2 separate regions of the Homo sapiens genome follow, and region 1 is linked to region 2. The links come from fine-mapping of genetic effects on gene expression. A gene starts in region 2. The other region holds a variant in brackets. All regions are shown on one strand. Distances are from middle to middle.

Evidence for each region. PIP is the estimated chance that this variant, and not a neighbour inherited with it, causes the effect.
Region 1: its variant is the best candidate, but not a certain one, in a credible set for the expression of PPP6C in whole blood (INTERVAL, PIP 0.62).

What each region holds. Positions count from the first base shown.
Region 1 is chr9:125,144,690-125,156,501 of GRCh38, reverse strand. PPP6C (protein phosphatase 6 catalytic subunit) reads left to right here. Exons shown (of 7, transcript NM_002721.5): 5 at 2,517-2,596; 6 at 2,760-2,969; 7 at 6,581-9,929. The coding sequence ends at 6,829. It also overlaps the pseudogene PRPS1P2. Among named protein-coding and RNA genes, the nearest start is that of SCAI, 7.1 kb to the right of the region's middle. The variant C/T (reference allele first, on the strand shown) is at 6,465.
Region 2 is chr9:125,183,736-125,195,547 of GRCh38, reverse strand. PPP6C (protein phosphatase 6 catalytic subunit) reads left to right here and starts at 5,745. Exons shown (of 7, transcript NM_002721.5): 1 at 5,745-5,904. The coding sequence starts at 5,830. It also overlaps the pseudogene RPSAP76. RefSeq lists enhancers at 5,468-5,547, 4,850-5,636, 5,637-6,423.

The DNA of each region.
Region 1 (11,812 bases), 39 kb after region 2:
AGGAGATCGAGACCATCTTGGCCAACATGGTGAAACCCCGTCTCTACTTAAAATACAAAAATTAGCTGGGCATGGTGGCACTTGCCTGTAGTCCCAGCTATTCGGGAGGCTGAGGCAGGAGAATCCCTTGAACCCGGGAGGTGGAGGTTGCAGTGAGCCGAGATTGCACCATTGCACTCCAGCCTGGATGACAGTGAGGCTGTCTCAAAACGAAACAAAGCAAAGATAATCTGAACTCTCTTACTCTTCAGTTTGTCTGCCATTATCAATTAGAGAAATTTTGAGAATTTATTGTTTTTATATAATTTTTTTAATACGTGTAAAGTTAGGTAATATTTATCTCCTTTCTACAGGTGACTTTTTATTTTCATTCACAAAATAAACACCAATTGAAATACAACTTTTGGATTCTTTTGCAAAATAATCAATATTTTGGATAACATACTATGATATTAGCTCAGTGAAAACAGTACTAAAACTAATGTTATAAAAACACACACACCTACTATATATATGTAACTAATGCTACATGTATAATATATAAAATACATATTGTTATATATGGCTAATATATGACTTTTTTTTTTTTTTTTTTTTGAGACGGAGTCTCGCTCTGTCACCCAGGCTGGAGTGCAGTGGTGCGATCTTCGCTCACTGCAAGCTCTGCCTACTGGGTTCACGCCATTCTCCTGCCTCCGCCTCCCAAGTAGCTGGGACTACAGGCGCCCGCCACCATGCCCGGCTAATTTTTTTGTATTTTTTAGTAGAGACAGGGTTTCACCGTGTTAGCCAGGATGGTCTCAATCTCCTGACCTTGTGATCCGCCCGCCTCGGCCTCCCAAAGTGCTGGGATTACAGGCATGAGGCACTGCGTCCAGCCATATGACATATGTTTTGAATAAGATAATTTTAGTTATTATAGGACTTATATTGATTTTCAAGGAATAAAATATCCCTATATGACTTTACACTGGGACTTCAGTTCACACTGATAAACACATACTGGGCAGTTACTATTGAGCCAAGTTCAAGATCCCTGCCTGCAACCTGAGCTCATTGTTAGGGCTCTCTTATGGCAAGTTTACATAACAATCTTGCTTCACGTAGATATATAATTGAGAAAATCTTGGGGATTGGTCATAACCTGCAGACTTCTTTCCTATATCATTTTCAGCTTCACTTAAGGCAATAGTGATATGTCAGGTTTTTTTTTTTCTAAAATTATGGAAGAAGCCAAAGTACAGAGCTTCCATGGTGTTAACAAAAGAAGTGTGTACCCTATTAACTATGTAGACAGTCAGGGTACAGTGGCTCACATCTGTATTCTCAGCACTGTGGGAGGCTGAGGTAGGAGGATTGCTTGAGCTCAGGAGTTCAAGACCAGCCTGGACAACATAGGGAGATCCCCATCTCTACCAGAAATAAAATTAGCCAGGTGTGGTGGCACTTGCCTGTAGTTCCAGCTGTTCAGAAGGCTGAGGTGGTGGGATCGCTTGAACCCAAGTGGTTGAGGTTGCAGTGAGCTGTGATCGCGCCACTGCTGATTGTGCCACTGTATTCCAACTTGGGCAATAGAGTGAGACCTTGTCTCAAAAACAAAAAACTACGTAGGCAGCAGAAAGAGTGTTCAACTGAGAATTTGTAAGAACCTGATTGGCAATCTGTCCTCAGTTTTGATCCACTGAAGCTCAAGTGTTTAGTCGCACGATTTGCAGAAAATCTCAGAAGAGACAACTTAGCCCTGAGAAGAGTTAGGAATTGCTCATGCTCCTATAACTAAGGATCCTCTAATTTGTTTGATCTGTTTATCCTGCTAGAATTGTCTCCTTAAATAAATTTATCTGCTTACCAGAATTGCCTAATATTAACATAACTGTTAAAACATTTGCTTCAGGTTGTGTGAAATTAGTATTTAACTCTTCTAATGATAGCATTTTGGCTAATAATTTCAGCTGCTTCTTAGGTCCATTCCAGGAATGAAGAGCAGTACTACATCCTTAGGAAATACAGTCATGTGCCACATAATGACATTTCAGTCGATGATGGACTGTATATATGACAGTGGTCCCATAGATAAAACGGAGCTGAAAAATTCCTATTGCACAAATACTTACCATTGTGTTACTATTTCCTTATGATATTTAGTACAGTTACATGCTGCACAAATTTATAGCCTATGAGCAATAGGCTATATCATATTGCCTAGGTGTGTAGTAGGCTAGACCATCTAGGTTTATGTAAGGACATCCGATGATGTTCACACAACGATGAAATCACCTAACAATGCATTTTTTAGAATGTATCCCCATGGTTAAGGGACATACAACTGTATGTAGTTAGTCACTAGCGTTCTTTTGGCTCTATGTGGAGGTCCTAGCAGGACTAAATATGTGTCATATCTTGCTATCCTAGTTTAAGCTGAATTTCTGTTGTACTGAAGGCTGCTCTAGTATTGGATATATTGTTTATTTTTATTAGCAGATTCATTAATTAAAACCCTTCTGTTTCTTTCACAGATGAGTGCCAAACCAAATATGGAAATGCTAATGCCTGGAGATACTGTACCAAAGTTTTTGACATGCTCACAGTAGCAGCTGTAAGTTTCTATTTTTAAAGTCTCATGTACGTTCCTGCCAATAACACATTGCATATTTTTATCTAGTTGTCATCTCAATTATATTGATATCTTTAGTATTCACTGATGAGTTTAGATATGCCTGAGGTTATATGTTCAACTCTTTGTTATCCTTTTTTGCTAGTTAATAGATGAGCAGATTTTGTGTGTCCATGGTGGTTTATCTCCTGATATCAAAACACTGGATCAAATTCGAACCATCGAACGGAATCAGGAAATTCCTCATAAAGGAGCATTTTGTGATCTGGTTTGGTCAGATCCTGAAGATGTGGATACCTGGGCTATCAGTCCCCGAGGAGCAGGTTGGCTTTTTGGAGCAAAGGTCACAAATGAGGTAAAGCCAACATTTTTGGAAATGTAATTTGTGGATTGCTAATGGGCTGCATAGAGAACTATGGTGGCCCTAGATAACAAACTTGTAGTCTAGCTTACTCAAAATATGGTGGCTGTGGATATTAAATTTCTAGTTTAGTTATTAACGTATGTCTTTCTTTAATGGTTAAATAAGATGACACAGTGAAAGCACCTACTCCAGCATCCATTTGGTAATAATGTATAAAGTAAATGTTCTTTCCTTTTTTTTTTGTTTTTGAGATGGAGTCTTGCTCTGTCGCCTAGGCTGGAGTGCAGTGGCGTGATCTTGGCTCACTGCAACAACCTCTGCCTCCCAGGTTCAAGCCATTCTCCTGCCTCAGCCTCCTGAGTAGCTGGGACCACAGGTGTGCGCCACCATGCCTGGCTAATTTTTGTATTCTTAGTAGAGATGGGATTTCACCGTGTTGGCTAGGCTGGTCTTGAACTCCTGACCTCAGGTGATCCACCCGCCTCAGCCTCCCAAAGTGCTGGGATTATAGGTGTGAGCCACCGCACCCGGCCAGCCCCTTTCCTTTCAAGTACTGTAGTTAAGTAACAAAATGGCAAGACCAAGATAGGCAATACTTTTTTTTTTTTTTCTCAAAGACCTCAAATCACACAGATACAGACACTTTATTAGTTTCCTCTACAAGAGACAATAACATGAATCTTTTTTTTTTTGAGACAAGAGTTTCGCTCATGTTGCCCAGGCTGGAGTACAATGGTGCAATCTCGGCTCACTGCAACCTCTGCCTCCTGGATTCAAGCGATTCTCCTGTCTCAGCCTCCCGAGTAGCTGGGATTACAGGTGTACACCACCACGCCTGGCTAATTTTGTATTTTTAGTAGAGACGGGGTTTCACCATGTTGGTGAGGCTGGTCTTGAACTCCTGACCTCAGGTCATCTGCCCACCTTGGTCTCCCAAGGTGCTGGGATTACAGGCGTGAGCCACCGCGCCCAGCCTACGTCAAATCTTTTTTTTCTTTTTAACAGAAATCTCTGTTCATTTGAAAAGCCAAATAGATCCAAAGAAAGAAGATGAAAATTAAATACTTAAATTAATCAAAAGGCACTATGATACCACCTAAAACCTACTGCCACAGTGGTAGTAGGCTAAGGAAGATCAAGCTACAGCAAATCATGTAATGTGAATGTTAGCGATTACATAGCAGGAAGCACATTTGCTTTCCAGAAGACTACGGTACAGTGTTCATTTGGGCCCAAGAGGATCTTTGGCCAGGAAAGGATCAAGATGGATGAAGGTAAAGCCAAATCAAAGGAGTAGGTACAAAAGAGAATCCAAGCTACATAGTCAAGCAGATGATGATGGATCAGGCTTCTTCCTCCCAAGAAACATTTGCTGCGCTGTGCTGCCTCCCCCCTCAACCACCCCCCACCCCCTACCCCATGGCTGCTCAAGCCCAACTGCCTACTCCTGCCTTACAGGGTGCTCAGCCACCGGGACTAGGTTTGGGGTTGCCCAGGGCTCTTGCCATAATTTAGCATAGACCTTGGGGAGAACTGCTCACACATGGGTTGGCTTTGCTGCTGGTTGTTCTCAACAAAGAAAACCCTGAAGCATTCACATGCAGAGTAGTCTGAGCTTCTCCAGTCACAGTCAAACACCCCCACACAACATCCTCAAAAGTCTGAAATCTTGTAACAGCTGAGCTATAGTTAAAGCTGCAAGGCTCACAGAATCATCAAGGAAGCCAGAATGAGACAATGCAGATAGGAAGTCCCAGCAGTTAATCTCAATCCTTCTTTCTTCATTTCGGATAAGCTCAGATATACCTGATGTGGGATATAGAAAGCTACACTGGAGCAAGCTGGGTCTTCTGCTGAATTCGTCATCAAATACCAAGGGAAAACAAGGGGTGGGGTGGATTTTATTCTTAAAAAGCCTCAGAAGTTACTGTATTATAAAGGGACATGACTGAATAGGTAAGAAACGGATTCTTCATTGTGAATTTTCCTGATGGCTTCTGCAAGGCTCATAGAGATGTTGATCACCTGTATTTTGGAATGGTGCTTCATCTTGTCCTCCTGGGGTATGTTATTGGTGACTACTACTGCTTTAAAGCATGCGTTGTTGATGTGAGAAATAGCTGGACCAGAGAAGATTCTGTGAGTCAAGATAGCATAAACTTTGGTGACTCCAGCTGAGAGAAGTTTGTCAGCTGCATGGCAGATTGTGCCACAAGTGTCAACCATGTCATCCGCAAGGATGGCCACCAGATCCTTCACATCTCCCACAAGCACCATGCGGTCGACTTCATTGGCCTTCTTTGTGAATCAAGGCAAAGTCCACATTCAGCCTGTCTGCAATGGAGGTCACTCTCTTAGCTCCACCAGCATCAGATGAAACAATAGTGCAGTTCTTCTGCTCAGAGATATTCTCCCTTATCCACTTCAGGACACCTGGCTCTGCATACAGATAGTCCACTGGGTTATCAAAAAAGCCCTGAATTTGAGAAGCATGTAGGTCCATGGTGATAATATGATCTGCGCCTGCCACAGATAGCATGTTTGCAACAAGCTTGGCTGAGATTGTCACCTGACTCTTTATTATCCTGCTGGGCATAAGGGAAGCATGGGATGACTGCAGTAAGCTGGCTCGCTGAAGCAGTCTTGCAGGTATTAGTCATGATCAAAGGCACCATTAAATTGTCATTGATTTTGCCACAACCACTCTGAATGATGTAGACATCCTTTCCACGTACACTTTTGCCAATTTCCACACAGGTCTCCTAGTTGCTGAATTTCTCAATCACTGCCTTGCCGAGCTCCAGGCCCAGGCGATCGGCAGTTTTCTGAGATAAGCCCTGGTGGGAGCTGCCGCTGAAGATTTTGATATTCAGGATCCTGGCCAACTACCCTAAGCACTCTTCACTAAGTGATCACTGCTGCTGCAGAGACTGCAACCAAAGTCGGCCCAGAGACTCAATACTAATCTCTTTGCGATGCTACTCCGCCATCTTCAAGATAGGCAGTACTTTGAACTTTCAACTGTTTTCAGTTAAAACACACACACACACTTTGAACTTTCAACTGTTTTCAATTAAAACACACACACACACACACACACACCCCTTATATTGGGAAGTGCTCCAGCATCATAATGAAGTCAAAAAACTAGATTCTGATCCTGCATCAGTGTATCTTAATTTAGATAAGTTATTTATCTAGTCTGAGCTTTTGTTTCCTTAAGTTGCAAAAGAATAATCTCTTTCAGAATTATTGCAACATCTACATATACTAAACCTTCAGTAAATGGTAGATACTGATAGCAATATCTTTATTATTAAATCAGAAAACACAAAATTTTGTTTCATAGTACCTATTGAATGCTTTTTCTTCCAGAAATTTCTAACTGTTTATGTAGCTGTACAGTTTCCATAGTTGTGCACTTGACTCAGGCCAAAATTGCTGTTTGCCTAAACTTATTAAATTGTTGGAGATAATTATAGAGTG[C/T]GTTCTATAATCTTGATGCCTTTAGTAGTAATAGGATTTGGTATTTTATTTAAATGATTATGTAGGCCGATTGTTTTTTAAGTGCTAAGTACTTACAGTGCCTTTCTAAATTGCAGTTTGTTCATATCAACAACTTAAAACTCATCTGCAGAGCACATCAACTAGTGCACGAAGGCTATAAATTTATGTTTGATGAGAAGCTGGTGACAGTATGGTCTGCTCCTAATTACTGCTATCGTTGTGGAAATATTGCTTCGATCATGGTCTTCAAAGATGTAAATACAAGAGAACCAAAGTTATTCCGGGCAGTTCCAGATTCAGAACGTGTTATTCCTCCCAGAACGACAACGCCATATTTCCTTTGAGGCCTTCGCCCATCCTGCTGACCCATTTTTCTGCCCTCTTCTTACCCCAATTTTCTTGTATTACCCTCTACAATATACTTTTTATTGAGCACTTTGCTGCTGAAATGCTGCCTCTTGCCTTTTTTTTTTTAAATTTTAAATTATCTAAATTTATTGTTTGTTGTGGTGTCTATAGCAAAGTTTTTCTATCAATTTTCCCCCATCCCATCCCCACCCTGGACTCATTTGAGAAGACTTGAGAAATGTCTTAATACTCACACTGCTGCATGTAGCTCTTGCTTATTTACTGGTCTGGGAAACAGGATGTGTTTCCTTTTTTTAAAAGCCAATTGACAGATTACACCTAAATACTCCTCCTTTTGTATCATTCAGCCTTTTGTTTTAGTTTGGTAAGTTTTAAGAAATTTCAGCAGCAAAGTTGTTATTCAGTGGGCACGATGGACTCCAAATGCCTCAAGTTATGTATACCTGTCCCAGATGTAAACTTCATTGTCCTTTGTTGGATGATATTTTAAATGGATATAAAATAAATTGGTCTAAAGGGCTGCCCTCCTTGTTGTGTTTTTAAATTTTAGTTAAAAACTGCTACAGCTTATGACTTTGTACTTTAAGATAATTGTATTGATCTTTTTTCAGATTCCTTGTATTTTTTAATAAAGTAATCTTAAATAAAACTCAGATAGGTTAAGTGTTAGAAATTTTAAACAGCTTACATTGTTAGCGTAAAGTTATCTTTTCTTTTTTCCTAATCAGAGTTCTTGACCCTTTGGTTATTGAGTTTAAAACTTCAATTGAAATTCAATAGTATTTATTTTTGAAAAAAATCACTAAACTGTGCCTAAAGAACATAACTGCCATATTAATGTTTTGGTTTATATCCTCTATAGTAATAGAAAAACATTTAATACTTGTAATGCTGATGTGTTAATTTGATACCAGTTGAGTAGAATGTGATCAATCCAGTTTACAATCTATCATGAGTATTATTAACTAAAATCTATGTGCTTTTCAATAGGAATCATTCTTCTCTTGCTGTAACACTTGACCTTAACTTTTAGAAAGTGTTCATTTTTAAACTGCAACTGGAAAGGTTGAAAAGTTAGGACTCTTGTATTTGTGAACTGTAATCTGAAGCAGATTATTTAAAGTGTAGAAAAAGAAACAAGTTCTTCTTTTTTGCAAAGGTCTGTGATACCATATTTCAGCTTTGTGTAAGTAATTTGAATATCCAAAGGGTTGTGATGATCAGTTCTGAATATGCAACTGTCCACTTAATAAGGACAAGTATTCCAGTATCTCTTATGACTGTAGTCATAAATGATGTTGGAATGTACATTTTGTGAAATAGTTGGTATCCCTTTACTATGATTAATTTTTGTTATTCCAGGAAATACTTGTGAAGCCAGCCAATTAATAAAGCACTTTAGCATCTGTTCAGGTAGTTTTGAAAACCCACTTTTCCCCTTCAGGATAAGAACTTCCAGGTTACCTAAAAATGCAATAAAAATCTTTATAGTCTAAGCTTCTTGGCATATAATTTTTCATCAGGGTTTTCTTTTATTAATTGAGCACAATACTGTTTTGATTTAATTTTTTTCCCTCAAACCACCCAGCTCCTTACATAGTTTTTAATTATATAGCTATATGAAAGAGGTGGCTAAGACATTTGCTGCACACACTTGAACTAATGTTGGGTCAGTAGCTTCGTGTTACTGCCCTGATCCCAGTGTAATTCAGGTGGAAAGGTATTTTTATCTCACAGGGATATGTAGCTATGTATTTTACTAATTGTGAAACACTGGAAATTAATGATGCAGACAACTTGGTGTGGTCTTTGAACAGCTCTCTGCAGTATTTTTTTTTTTCCTGTTACCATAAATTGTATTTAAGTGCTTGCTTTCCACTTAAGTTGTACTAATAGAACCGGTAACTCCCAGCCCTCCCTGTTTGACACTCCTTAGCTTAGATTGATGTAGTTGTTTTTGTTATCCCTATAATGTGACTTTTATTTTTAAGTCATTGTGTACTGCATTTGTTTGTCACTAGTTGGGCACGTGCCAATAATATTCTCTCCATTCCTTATCTGCCATCTCTGTTTTGCCTGATTTCTCTTCAACTGAATAATGGCTTTTTGCATGGAAAAAATAGTTTTTACTATTAGACGTGTAAAGGGAAGAGAGAGCTAATGTATTGGACTTTGTGAGCCTACAAGGAATATTTTGGATCCCTCCAATAAATAAGGGCTATGTACTATATGTACTATATAGAGTTATCATGTGGTGGAAGATACTTGCAAGTCATAGATTTATGGGCAGGAGGATTTGTTACTCCCTATATCTAGGCTGAATGTAAAATCCCTTATGTTGTATCAATGGGGGTAAAAACTATTTTTATTTGCCTATGATATACTTGGTTTCTAATAAAGTGCCCTAGGCTCTAGTGAGAACTGTCTACTTTGAATTGCCATTTACTCCCTTTCCTCCTTTGGCCGATATGCTCTTGGCTAGCTTTTTATAAGTTAATGTGTTTCCCCAAAAAGTTTCACTACTTTATATTCATTTGAGTGTGATCCTAAAACACCTGGATCAACAGTACATCTCATATGCAATCTGCATCAGCTCCTATTCTGTCTGGATGTCTAGAACTGTTGGAAGATTTTGACGTCTTAAGCCCTAGGTTTTGCTTTGGGAAATAAGGTTTGAAATATTGTTCATTGCATTAAGATTTGTGTGTGTGTGCTTTGTAAGCCCAGAACCAGGTTTTGGAAAATGCCTGTACTGTGAAAGCAAATTAGGACTCTTTCTGAGCCTCTTTCATTGTCAGAAATAGAATCACTTTCCATCAGCTTCCAGGAAATTGTGTATCTGGAGTCGAAGAGATTTGACATCAAGAATCCAGATTTTTAAATGTAATTGTTTTTTAAATGCTAATGTTTGTAAAGCACCTTCAGTTCTTCGGATGAAAGGTGCTATATTCCCTCAGTGTAAATTAATAAAAAGATTACAGGAAGTTTGTCAAAAAATTCAATGCATAGTCTGTAGTATGTCCTGACAAGAAGTTAGCATTTTATATAAGAAATTAAAAAATGCTTATTCCTCCACTTGGTTGCTTGACTGGTGAACAAAAGTGAAACCTTTTTTTTTTTGTTTTGCATTTGACTCTGAGCTAAGTGTTCCAACTCTTTAAAGGCAATGTTTATTGTTACAACCTCGATCCAGTGCCCAGAACTATGCTTCATGAGATCATCACAACTCTTTAAATTGTATATTTACAGTGTGTAGTGATGCTGACGAAATACACGGTAGTAAACCAAAAAGAAACATTTGGAAAGTCCCCTAGCATGATGCCAGACACACTAGATGCTTGGGGAAGGTTGGTTCTGCATTCCCCTCCTGTTTTCTATTTCCGTATCAATTTATTGGTGAATTTGTGCCCTCATGAGAGTAGGCTTATGCTGGCTTAGATCATTCAAATGTTTTCTTAATTCAAAAATGCATGACATTTATAGATTTGTGTTGTCAACAAAAATACTACATAAGTATATTCCACTCAATCCCTAGGCACCCACTATGCTCAGCAGCACTGTGCTTTTGTATATAAATGGTGGGTTATAAAAGACTGCATGGAGGCATTATGGAATAGCACAGGCTTTGGGATCAGATCTGGGTGAAAACCCCAGCTCTGTCATGCAGTAATAGCAACTAACCTGTATACAGCATATGTGCTAAATTGTTATGTTCTCTATTTTGTGATGCCCTTGCTGTATGGGTCTATGACTATATTACCTTTTATTTTTTTTTTTTCTTGGTAGAGATGGGGTCTCCCTATGTTGCCCGGGCTAGTCTTGAACTCCCGGCTGAAGAGATCCTCCTATCTCGGCCTTCCAAAGCACTGGGATTACAAGCATAAGCTACTGTGCCCAGCCCAAACTTCAAAAAAATTAATAAATCTTGTTCATCCTTCTCTAGAACTTTTCTCCCCCTAGATGAGGAAATAGGCTTAGAGAGGATAGGTGACTTGTCTAACGTTGCACAAGAGAGCTGGAACTTGAATCCCTAGAGGGCACACCAGAGTATTTCTTTAGCGCTCTATTTTAAGCAATATTGGTTATTGTAGTTGTGTGACCCTGAACAGATTGAATTTTCTGAATCTTAAGTTTCTGTGTCTAAAATAAGAGAATATCAGGCAGGGTTAATCTCACTATTAAAAATAGCACACACAAAGCACCCAGTATCTGGTCCAAAGCTGCCTTTTATTAAGGGCTCATACTCATAGGCCATTTGTTCAAATTCATTGTAGTTGGGAAGAATAATCCAAGGCAATGTATAATTGCTAACATAGTGTAGATTTTGTAAGTACAACACATCTGGACAAGGAAATGTTTGATGTAGGATGGAGTAATTGGGGAAGATAAAGAGGAAGTGTGAATTAAGTGTGGACTGGAATGATGGGATTTGTATGTCTTACAGAGTTAAAATAAGCAGAGATCACTTGGACACAATGTGAAGACTCGAGGATCCTTTTTGGGAAGGCGTAAGAAATGAATAGGTCCTGTTTTATTGACAATATCTGCCATATATCAGTGAGGATTGGTCAATTATGGAAGATGCTAAAAAGCAGGCAATGGATTTTTAATAAGGAATATAATAAATGTATTTCAAGATTACTTCCCTAGTGAGTTGATGATCCCCCTTCGTCTGACACAAATTATTCTCGAGTTCTTTCCTCTCTCTGGCTTGATAATATGGGTGGAAACTGTTAGTTGAGATTGAGGTGATTTGTGGTTCTGTGACTTTAGGATTACGTGAAATACTAATTTGGGGGACCAACAGAGATTTGACATTTTTTCAAAGCAATTTTTCAATTCCTACTACAATTTACCGTCAGTATTACTTCATAAATGGAAAGTCATTTTACCATTAAAGATGTAGGTAGGACCATCTCAGAAGAAAAGACAACTCTTTACACCAAATACATTTGGTT
Region 2 (11,812 bases):
TGCCACCAGAGCCACTCCAGTTGCTGGCCACTTCACTCCTGGAACCTTCACTAACCAGATCCAGGCTCCTTCCGGGAGCCACAGCTTTTTGTGGTTACTGACCCCAGGGCTGACCACCAGCCTCAAACAGAGGCATCTTATGTTAACCTACCTACCATTGCTCTGTGTAATACAGATTCTCCTCTGCAGTATGTGGACATTGCCATCCCATGCAACAACAAGGGAGCTCACTCAGTGGGTTTGATGTGGTGGATGCTGGCTCAGGAAGTTCTGCACAAAGGTGGCACCATTTCCTGTGAACACCTGTGGGAGCTCATGCCTGATCTCTACTTCTTTTTTTTTTTTTATTTGAGACGCAGTCTCGCTCTGTCGCCCAGGCTGGAGTGCAGTGGCGCAATCTCGGCTCACTGCAACCTCTGCCTCCTGGGTCCACACCATTCTCCTGCCTCAGCCTCCCAGGTAGCTGGGACTACAGGCGCCTGCCACCATGCCCGGCTAATTTTTTTGTATTTTTAGTAGAGACGGGGTTTCACCGTGTTAGCCAGGATGGTCTCAATCTCCTGACCTCATGATCTGCCCGCCTTGGCCTCCCAAAGTGCTGGGATTACAGGCGTGAGATACTGCGCCCGGCCTGCCTAATCTCTACTTCTACAGAGATCCTGAAGAGATTGAAAAAGAAGAGCAAGCTGCTACTGAAAAGGCTGTGACAAAGGAGGAATTTCAGGGTGAATGGACTGCTCCAGCTCCTGAGTTCACTGTTACTCAGCCTGAGGTTGCAGACTGGTCTGAAGGGTGCAGGTATCCTCTGTGCCTATTCAGCAGTTCCCTACTGAAGACTGGAGCACTCAGCCTGCCACGGAAGACTGGTCTGCAGCTCCCACTGTTCAGACCACTGAATGGTTTTAAATTGTTCTTGCAGGGACTCTTAAGCAACTTGGAAATAAGGTTGATGGAAAATAGGCATCAGTTTCTTTTTTTTTTTTTTTGTTTGAGACAGTCTCGCTCTTTCGCCAGGCTGGAGGGCAGTGGCGCAATCTCGGCTCACTGAAACCTCTGACTCCCTGTTTCAAGCAATTCTCCTGCCTCAGCCTCCTGAGTAGCTGGGATTACAGGCAGGCTAATTTTTGTATTTTTAGTATAGACGGTGTTTCGTCACATTGGCCAGGTTGGTCTCGATCTCCTGACCTCGTCATCCGCCCGCCTTGGCCTCCCAAAGTGTTGGGATTACAGGTGTGTGTGTTTATGGCCACCGTGCCTGGCCATAAACATCAGTTTCTAAAAAAAAAAAAAAAGAAAAATATCTAAACAAGAACAGCATCTTCTTCCATTTGAATTTTTTTCTCCAAGAAATTCTGAGCAGATTATCCCTTTACCTTTTTTTCCTTTTTTTTTTTTGAGACAGGGTCTCACTCTGTTGCCTAGGCTGGAGTGCAGTGGCACAACTTTGGCTCACTGCAACCTCCGCCTCTGGGGCTCAAGCAATCCTCCCGCCTCAGCCTCTTGAGTAGCTGGGACTACAGGCACATGCCAGCATGCCCGGCTAATTTTTATATTTTTTGTAGAGATGGGGTTTTGCCATGTTTCCCAGGCTGGTCTCGAACTCCTGGGCCCAAGCAATCTGCCCACCTCAGCCTCCCAAAGTGCTGGGATTACAGGCATGAGTCATTGCACCTGTCCTGCCTTTTTTTCCTCCCCTCCCCTCCCTCTCTCTCTTTCTCTCTTTCTTTCTTTTTGATGGAGTCTCGCTTTGTCACCCAGTCTGGAGTGCAGTGGCGCAATGTCGGCTCAATGCAACCTCTGCCTCCCGGGTTCAAGCGATTCTCCTGCCTCAGCCTTCCCAGTAGGTGGGATTACAGGCATGCACCACCATGCCTGGCTAATTTTTGTATTTTTAGTAGAGACGGGGTTTCACCATGTTGACCAGGCCTGTCTTGAACTCCTGACCTCAAGTGATCTGCCCGCCTGGGCCTCCCAAAGTGCTGTGATTACAGGCGTGAGCCACCATGCCCAGCCTCCTACATTTTTTTTTCTGAAGTCTTACATGTTACACCTTCAGAAATGCCTTTCCTGCCCACCTAATACTCAGAGTTAACACTCATATTGCACTCACTCTGTGCTAGACAATGTTTTTTTGTCTTTGTTTTTTGTTTTGAGACAGAGTCTCACTGTCACCCTGATGTAGTACAGTGACACAATCACAGCTCACTGCAGCCTTGGCCTCCTGGGCTCAAGTGATCCTCCCACATCAGTCTTTAGAGTAGCTGGGTCTACAGGTATGTGCCAGCACCAAACCTGGCTAATTTTAATTTTTTTTTTTTTTTGGTAGAGATGAGGTCTCACTATGTTGCCCAGTCTGGTCTTGAACTCCTTGGCTCAAGTGATCCTCCTGCCTTGGCCTCTCAAAGTGTTGGAATCACAAGTATGAGCCACTGTGCCCGGCCCAGACATTGTTTTAAGCCATTTTCATATACCAACTCTGTTAAACCTTTGTACAAGCCTATGAGGTAAGTAGTATTCTTACAATCTCCAGAGGAGGTAAGCATTATTATTATCTCCATATTGGAGCTGAGAAAACTGGAGTACAGAAAGGATAAATAACTTCTCCAAACCAAAATCACACAATAAGTGGTAGAGCCTGTATTTGAACTCTGCCCACATGGTGCTAGAAGCTACATCCTGTACTTTACCTCCTCTGTGTTATCAACCTAAAGTAGGCCTCTTTTTTTTGAGACGGAGTCTCGCTCTGTTGTCCAGGCTGGAGTGCAGTGGTGCGATCTCGGCTCACTGCAACCTCTGCCTCCCAGGTTCAAGTGATTCTCCTGCTTCAGTCTCCTGAGTAGCTGGGATCACAGGCACGTGCCACCACACCAGGCTAAGTTTTTCTTTTTCTTTCTTTCTTTTTTTCTTTTTCTTTTTTTTAAGACGGAGCCTTGCATTGTCACCCGGGCTGGAGTGCAATGACGCTATCTCAGCTCACTGCAACCGCAACCTCCATCTCCCAGGTTCACGCAATTCTCCTGCCTCAGCCTCCCAAGTAGCTGAGATTACAGGCACACACCACCATACCCGGCTAATTTTTTGTATTTTTAGTAGAGACAGGGTTTCACTATATTGACCAGGCTGGTCTCAAACTCCTGACCTCATGATCCGTCCGCCTCGGCCTCCCAAAGTGCTGGGATTACAGGCGTGTGCCACCATGCTGGGCCCTTTTTTTTCCCCCAAAGGACACAAGTACAGGTAAGAAAATGTAGTTTTTTGTTTTTTTTTTTTTTTTAGACAGGGTCTCACTTTCTCTCCCAGGCTAGAGTGCAGTGGTGGGATCTCAGCTGGTCAGGAACTCCTGACCTCAAAAAGACCTGCCCGCCTCGGTCTCCCAAAATGCTGGGATTACAGGCGTGAGCCACTGTGCCCAGCCAAAGGTAGACCTCGTCTACTCCATTTTTCTTGCTTATAGTACCTCCTATTTTCCCTTTTGAGTACTAATCACAATTTGCAATTAAATATTTGCTCACTGCCAGGTATGGTGGCTTACACGTATAATCCCAGCACTTTGGGAGGCCAAAGCAGCGGAATAGCTTGAGGCCAGGAATTTAAAACCAGCCTCAGCAAGACCTCACCTCAACAATTTTTTTTTTTTTTCTGTTGGCCAGGCTGGAGTGCAGTGGCACGACCTCAGCTCCCTGTAACCCCCACCTCAAAGCAATTTTCATGCCTCAGACTCCGGAGTAGCTGGGATTACAGGCATGTGCTACAATGCCCAGCTAATTTTTGTATTTTTAGTAGAGATCAGGTTTCACCATGTTGGCCAGGATGGTCTTGAATTCCTAGCCTCAAGATATCTGCTCACCTTGGCTTCACTACTGGGATTACAAGTTTGAGCCACTGCACCCGGCCTCAACAAAAACAAAAATTTTAATTACCTCACCCTATGCATCTCTTCATTTGTATCCTTTGTAATATCCTTTATATTAATAATAAACCAGTAAATGTAAATAAATAAATAAATACTGTTTGTCTCTTCCCAGCAGATTGTAAGCCTGATTAGGGCAGGGATCATATCTGTTTTATTCACATCATAAGCACTGTGTAACCTCTGGTTTCTTTTCTCTTTGAGATGGAGTTTCACTCTGTGGCCCAGGCTGGAGTACAGTGGCGCCATCTCAGCTCACTGCAACCTCTGCCTCAAGCAATTCAAGTGATCCTCCTGCCTCAGCCTCCCCAGTATTTTGTATTTTTAGTAGAGATGGGGTTTCGGCATGTTGGCCAGGCTGGTCTTGAACTCCTGACGTCAGGTGATCTGCCTGCCTTGGCCTCCCAAAGTGCTGAGATTACAGGCATTAGCCACCGCGGCCTGGCCAATAGGCACTATGTAACTATTAGTTTAATGAATGAAGAAATGAATGCTTGTGGGCATCATTCATTCTGCAACAAACTTCTAAAAATTAATTTTACTTTGAAACAATTTCATACTTTCAGAGGAGTTACAAGAATAATACAAAGAAGTTCACCCAGATATCTCATTCAGGGTTAGCCAATTGTCCACAAAATATACTTTAGAGAGCAAGAGGATTAATTCCAGGGTCTCTTGAGCAACAAATATTTATTGAGCGCCTGCTACTATTGGATTACATAACAGTCTCTTAACTGGTCTCTTAGCTATAGGCATTGCACCCCCACCCCTAGTCCCATACAGCAGCTCCTTTTACTAATTTATTTTTGAGGAGGATCTCGCTCTGTCGCCCAAGCTGGAGTGCAGTGCCGCGATCTCAGCTCACTGCAACCTCCGCCTCCCAACTCAAGCGGTTCTCCTGCCTCAGCCTCCAGAGTAGCTGGGACCACAAGCACGCACTACCGCGCCAGGCTAATTTTGGTACTTTTTGTAGCTACAGATAGAATAGAGATCTTTGTCTATTTTGTTCACGAAGTACTGCAAGCGCCTTGAGCTGTACCTGGCACATCTTTGTTGCTCAGCAAAGAGTGGTTGGATAAACGAACGCTGAAGGTATGCTAGTACCAGGTACTGTTCTCGGTGCTGGAGTTACAGCAAAAAACTCCCTGCCCTCGTGGGATTCTCACTGGAAGCATGCTTAAGCTTAAGCCATTTTTCAATCTTGACCCCACCATTTTGTTCCCTGTGAGATTTGGGGTGAACTGCAGTTTCCTAGCCTCACTTTCCTATCAATCGTTACGAAGATTAAAAGGAAAAATATCATTTGTATCGCATTTAGCATCAGAAATGCTTTAATAATATTCGTTTCCCTTCCTTTCAGGCTGGAAGACTGGGGCCTGACATCTCTGCCACAGGCTTAGGCGAGGTTTTCACAGGGACTTGGAAAGGTGCAAACGGTTACTACGGCCAGGCTTACCCAATTGTTAAGTGAAGATATTCTGGAGAGTGCTTAAAAGGGTTGGAAAAACAAACCAGTGAGTGGCTAGGACCACCTACTCCGCTGTTTTGCCTCGGAAAAGCCTCGCCGGCTGCCGGGAGGTGAAAGTCTGGAGGAACGGGAGGAAAAGAGAGGGGTGGCTGTCCACAACAGAAAACTACACATCCCAGCACCCCCGCGGCAGACGACTACGGGTCCCAGCAGGTTTCGCGGGGTGGACCGAAGCGGGCTCTCTTGGGGCCTGCAGTCGGGGTTCAGCCAGAGGGGGCGCCGGGCGTACCGACGTAGCGGGGAGAAACGGGTCGCGCTTTAACGGCGCTGCGCAGGCGCCACTCACGGGCCGGACGTGACGCAGGGAAAGTTCCGGCTTCGGCCTCCGCCGCTGCCGCCGCCGCTGCTACAGCCGCCGCCGCCGCTGTTGCCGCGGCTTGTTATTCTTAAAATGGCGCCGCTAGACCTGGACAAGTATGTGGAAATAGCGCGGCTGTGCAAGTACCTGCCAGAGAACGACCTGAAGGTGAGCCCTATTTGCGGGCTCGCCCCTTCCGGCTGTGGGGCGCCCGCCGGCCGGCCCTTCCTTTCTCCAGGACCCCCGCCGGGTATCCAGTCCAGTCGCGGTGGAGGGCCTCCCCCATTGCCAGTCGACCCGGTCCTACCCGGCGTCACGCCGAGGGTCTCGCGAGCCGAGTCGTCGAATGCTGTCCCGGTTGCCTCAGTGGGGATCCCGAGGGATGTCGCGGCCTCTGTCCCAGGGTCGCCCCTTCTGGCCTTCGGGCTGCCCCAGGACCCGCAGCTGTAACAGCTTTATTTAGAAGGCTCGGCTCCCCACCCCATCCCTGGGTCTCCCGCAGTCGGAGCCGAGCCCCCGCGGCAGTGCCCTCGGGATGGGGTCGCCTCCACCGGAGGTGACAGGAGCGCGGAGTGGCCGGCGTCTGACAGGAGATGCCACCGGCTACCGGAACGCGGCCTCAGTGTGTTTAGGTCTCTGAGGAAGGGGAAGGCGGTGGGCCCGAGTGGTTTGGTACTGGCGGGAGCGAACGTCAGGTCGTCCCTCTTCATTGCCACTCCTCCAAATTGCTTTTTAGGATCGTCGGTTTTGCTAATTCAGAGGTGAATCCCGTTTCTGAGTATGTTGTTGAGCTTACTGAAGTGGATAAAGTAGTTGGTTCTCAATAAATACAAATACTTTCTCCTTAACCCCTTCTTAACTCAGTATTTCATTTTCTTCGTTTTCTAAAGGAGGTGAGTTCCTTGTTACTCCTGAGTCCAAGTAAGAGTAAATGTATGTATGGGTAAAGGAATGACTTTGGTATACTGCTTTTCTTTTTTAAAACTTTTTAATTATTATTATTATTATTATTATTATTGTTTTTAACTGAGATAGAGTCTCACTCTGTCACCCAGGCTGGAGTGCAGCGGTGCGATCTTGGCTCACTGCAACCTCCACTTCCCGGGTTCAAGCGATTCTCCTGCCTCAGCCTCCCGACTAGGTGGAATTACAGGCGCCCGTCACGACGCCCGGCTGTTTTGTATTTTTAGTAGAGACGGGGTTTCGCCATGTTGGCCAGGCTGGTCTTGAACTCCTGACCTCAAGTGATCCGCCCGCTTCGGCCTACCAAAGTGCTGGTATTACAGGCGTGAGCCACCGCGCCGGCCTAGGTATACTGCTTCTTTGAAAAGTGTTTCTATGCATTTGCTGAAATCAGAGCTTAGGTTTCTAGCAGTGCTTATCAGCTCGTGCTAGTATTTAACCGACTCAGTGTATTCTTTTTTTTTGAGACGGAGTCTCGCTCTGTCGCCCAGGCCGGAGTGCGGTGGCACCATCTCGGCTCACTGCAACCTCCGCCTCCCGGGTTCACGCCATTCTCCTGCCTCAGTCTCCCGAGTAGCTGGGACTACAGGTGCCCGCCACCACGCCTGGCTAATTTTTTGTATTTTTAGTAGAGACGGGGTTTCACCGTGTTAGCCAGGATGGTCTCGATCTCCTGAACTCGTGATCCGCCCGCCTCGGCCTCCCAAAGTGCTGGGATTACAGGCGTAAGCCACCGTGCCCAGCCCCGACTCAGTGTATTCTTAAGGAAATATATTACTGTGGGTTTTGTTTTATTTCTTCTTTGTACAGTAAGTTGATACTTAACATCAGTCAACAAGTATGCATAATATTTGAGGCCACACGTGCTGTTGTGAATGTGACTGAATTGTACTTACCTGTTAATTTTATGTGGCATATGATAGGGGAGTCATTCTTGTGCATTTTCCCGTTTTTAATAGAATAATTTCAAATAAGGACAGCCTTCGTTAGTAGTAATGTAGCATTTGTGCTCATCTGAGTCCTTCAGACATTCCTTTTGTGGCTTCTTTCTGCTATGTGGTTTTTTTAAGGGAATAAGAATACAACTAGCATTGGGACCCAATTCATGGAAAACTAACCAGACCTCTTAGTAGCATTATTAATCCCATAGGTGAGGTTGACTATTGCATGTCAGTGAATTGACATGGAATTTTTTCTTCTTATTTATCATGCATAAAGCTTTTTTGAACTTTGTGTTTATGATGAATAAAATGTTGCTTTTTATGAAAATGTGTCTAGGGCACAGTGGCGTAATCTCAGTACTTGGGGAGGCTGAGGTGGGCAGATCATTTGAGATCAGGAGTTTGAGACCAGACTGACCGACTTGGTGAAACCCCCTCTCTACTAAAAACACAGAAATTAGCCGAGCATGGTGGTAGGTGCCTGTAATCCCAGTTTACTTACTTGGGAGGCTGAGGCAGGGAGAATGGCTTGAACCCGGGAGAATTGCTTGCAGTGAGCCGGGATCACACCACTGTACTCCAGCCTGGGAGACAGAGCAAGACTCTGTCTCAAAAAAAAAGAAAAGGAAATTGGGCACTGAAATGATTTGAAAGATAATCTGGCCAGGTGCAGTGGCTCACGCCTGTAATCCCAGCACTTTGGGTGGCTGAGGCAGGTGGATCACTTGAGGTCAGGAGCTCGAGACCAGCCTGGCCAACATGGTGAAACCCCGTCTGTACTAAAAATACAAAAATAAACTGGAGGTGGTGGCAGGTGCTTGGAATCCCAGCTACTTGGGAGGCTGAGGCAGGAGAATCGCTTGAACCAGGGAGGCGGAGGTTGCAGTGAGCCAAGATTGCGCCACTGCAGTCCAGCCTGGGTGACAGAGGGAGACTCCGTCTCACCAAAAAAAAAAAAAAAAAAAAAAAGAAAGAAAAATCTGTTGGACTTCTTTGTACCTCTTAGTTTGATAAACATTAGATTTCCTTCTTACCTTAAGGAAGTACAATTTTTAGACCATTTTATTTCTTGTTGAAACATAGCTGCATTGTACTTGACTTGTATTTGTTTCTTTTTTTTTCTTAAAAAAATTTTTAATCTTTTTTTTGGTGGGGGAGCGGGGACATGGTCTCACTCTCACCCATGCTGTAGTGTGGTGGCACAATCATGGCTCATTGCAGCCTCGACCTCCTGGGCTCAGGCAGTCCTCCCACCTTAGCCTCCTGAGAAGCTGGGACCACAGGCACATGCCCCCATGACCAGCTAATTTTTATTTATTTTTTTGGTAGAGACAGGGTCTTGCTATGTTACCCAGGCCAGTCTTGAACTCCTGGGCTCAAGCGATCCTCCCACCTTGGCTTCCCAAAATGCTGGGATAACAGGCATGAGCCACTATACTTGGCCTGTATCCATTTCTTAATAAACTTAAAAATATATGTTTTGGGCAACCAAGACAAAAGTATTCTGAATTTTTCTTTATAGGTAGAGACTTTTTTTTCTGTCTTGGAAATGCTTTTATCAGATTAATTTGTTGTGTTGCTCATCTCTGGTGTATTTAAAGAAATTTAATTTTTTTCTGTTTCTTGGCATGAAGTGCAACCTAAAATTAGGCCAAGAAAGTATGCCAGGAGTACTTTTTCTGAGGCTGTAAAGGCAAAATAAAACATTCTATTAAGAAAAGTAATCATTGAGGCCACTTAATGAGCAAGATGGAAAAGATTTGTTCTGTAGAAAAGAAGACAGAAATTTACTTGTGTTTTAAATTGATTAGAAGATAAAATACTAAATGCATACGATGTTCCAGATTTAATCACAATTTCTGTTTCGCTAAGTTGGAAATGGTCACATCACTAGTACTGGATCAAATCTACATAACTGTTTTTGTTTGTTTGTTCGCTCTTGTTGCTCAGGGTGGAGTGCAATGGCGTGAGCTTGGCTCACTGCAACCTCTGCCTCCCGGGTTCAAGCGATTCTCCTGCCTCAGCCTTCCTGAGTAGCTGTGATTACAGGCATGTGCCACCACGCCCAGTTAATTTTGTATTTTTAGTAGAGACCAGGTTTCCCCATGTTGTTCAGGCTGGTCTCGAACTCCTCACCTCAGATGATGCACCCACCTCGGCCTCCCAAAGTGCTGGGATTATAGGTGTGAGCCTGGCCTGTTAGTTTGTTTTTTTGAGACGGAGTCTTGCTCTGTTGCCCAGGCTAGAGTGCAGGTGCACGTTCTCAGCTCACTGCAACCTCCGCCTCCCGGATTCAAGCGATTCTCCTGCCTCAGCCTCCTGAGTAGCTGGGATTACAGGCACCCACCACCACTCCTGGCTAATTTTTGTATTTTTAGTAGAGATGGGGTTTCACCATGTTGGCCAGGCTGGTCTCAAACTCCTGACCTCAGGTGATCCACCCTTCTCAGCCTCCCAAAGTGCTGGGATTACAGGCGTGAGCCACCATGCCTGGCATACATAACAGTTTTGAAGGAATAAGAATGACATATGTGGGCCGGGAGGCTGAGGCAGGAGAATTGCTTGAGCCTGGGAGATGGAGGTTGCAGTGAGCCGAGATCATGCCACTGCACTCCAGCCTGGCCAACAGAGCGAGACCCTGTCTCAAAAAAAAAAAAAAATGACATATGTGAAAGTAAATGGACCACAGTGTAACCTTTCTTATAAAGAGCTCATGTGATTTTATCCACAAGAAAGATTTCAGAGAGATTAATAAAAGATACAGATTCCATACCTGGCTAAATGGAAGAATTAATGATAAAGGCAGGTTTACTGAATACTTATATTTAAGTATTAATATTTTTGGGGAGCAGGGGTTCTATAACTTGGAGGTTGTCTAATCTCTTGGACAGTTCTTAAGGGTGACATGTTTACCTGAGGTTTTTTTTTTTTTTTTTTTTTTGAGACTGAATCTAACTCTATTGCCCAGGCTGGAGTACAGTGGTACCATCTCAGCTCACTGCAGTCTCCACCTCCTGGGTTCAAGCAGTTCTGCCTCAGCTGGGATTACAGGTGCGCACTACCACACCCAGCTAATTTTTGTATATATATATTTTTTGGTAGAGATGGGGTTTCACCATGTTGGCCAGGCTGGTCTCGAACTTCTGGCCTCAGGTGATCCGCCCACCTCGGCCTCCCAAAGTGTTGGGATTACAGATGTGAGCCACTGTGTTTGGCCATTCCTTATTTGTGTTTTCCACAATTTTAGAACACTGCCCTGTATGTGATAATCAGTAAAGGTTTATTGACTCAAACTGTTTACTGCTTTATGACAAATACTTGTTTCTTCTTCTTCTTTTTTTTTTTTTCTTTGAGGTAGGGTCTCAGTCTGCTGCCCAGGGTGGAGTGCAGTGGTGCAGTTGTAGCTTGCTGCAACCTCAAACTCCTGGGCTCAATTGATCCTTCTGCCTCAGCCTCAAAAGTAGCTGGGAGTACAGGTGTGCAATAGTGTGCCCAGCTGATTAATTATTATTTTTATTTTTGAGATGGAGTCTCACTCTGTCACCAGGCTGGAGTGTAATGGCGCGATCTCGGCTCACTGCAACCTCTGCCTCCTGGGTTCAAACAATTCTCCTGCCTCAGCCTCCCAAGTAGCTGGGACTACAGATGCATGCCACCATGCCTGGCTAGTTTTTTGGTATTTTTGGTAAAGATGGGGTTTCACTGTGTTTGCCAGGATGGTCTCAATCTCCTGACCTCGTGATCCACCCGCCTTGGCCTCCCAAAGTGCAGGGATTATAGGCGTTAGCCACCGCGCCTGGCAAAAAAAAAATTTTTTTAAGGGATAGCGTCTTGCTATGCTGTCCAGGCTGGTCCCAAATGCTTCAGGTGATTCTCCTGCCTTGGCCTCCCAAAATGCTGAGATTATAGGTGTGAGCCACTGTGCCCAGCCAACAAACACTTATTTACATGGTTCCTTGTGTTGAGTACTGTTCCCTGTGGGTGCCAGGGGCAGAATTGGATACTTGTGTCTGCCTTTGAGGGGCTTTCAATATAGTAAGGGAGGTAAGGAGGTAAACAAAGACTGTAATAGAGGCTGACCAGGGTGTTGGCAAACAGAAGAAGCAGTATGTAACTTTAGAGTCAGAGATGATTTCATAAAGGAGCAGTTACGAGGGGCAGAGTTCAGGTAG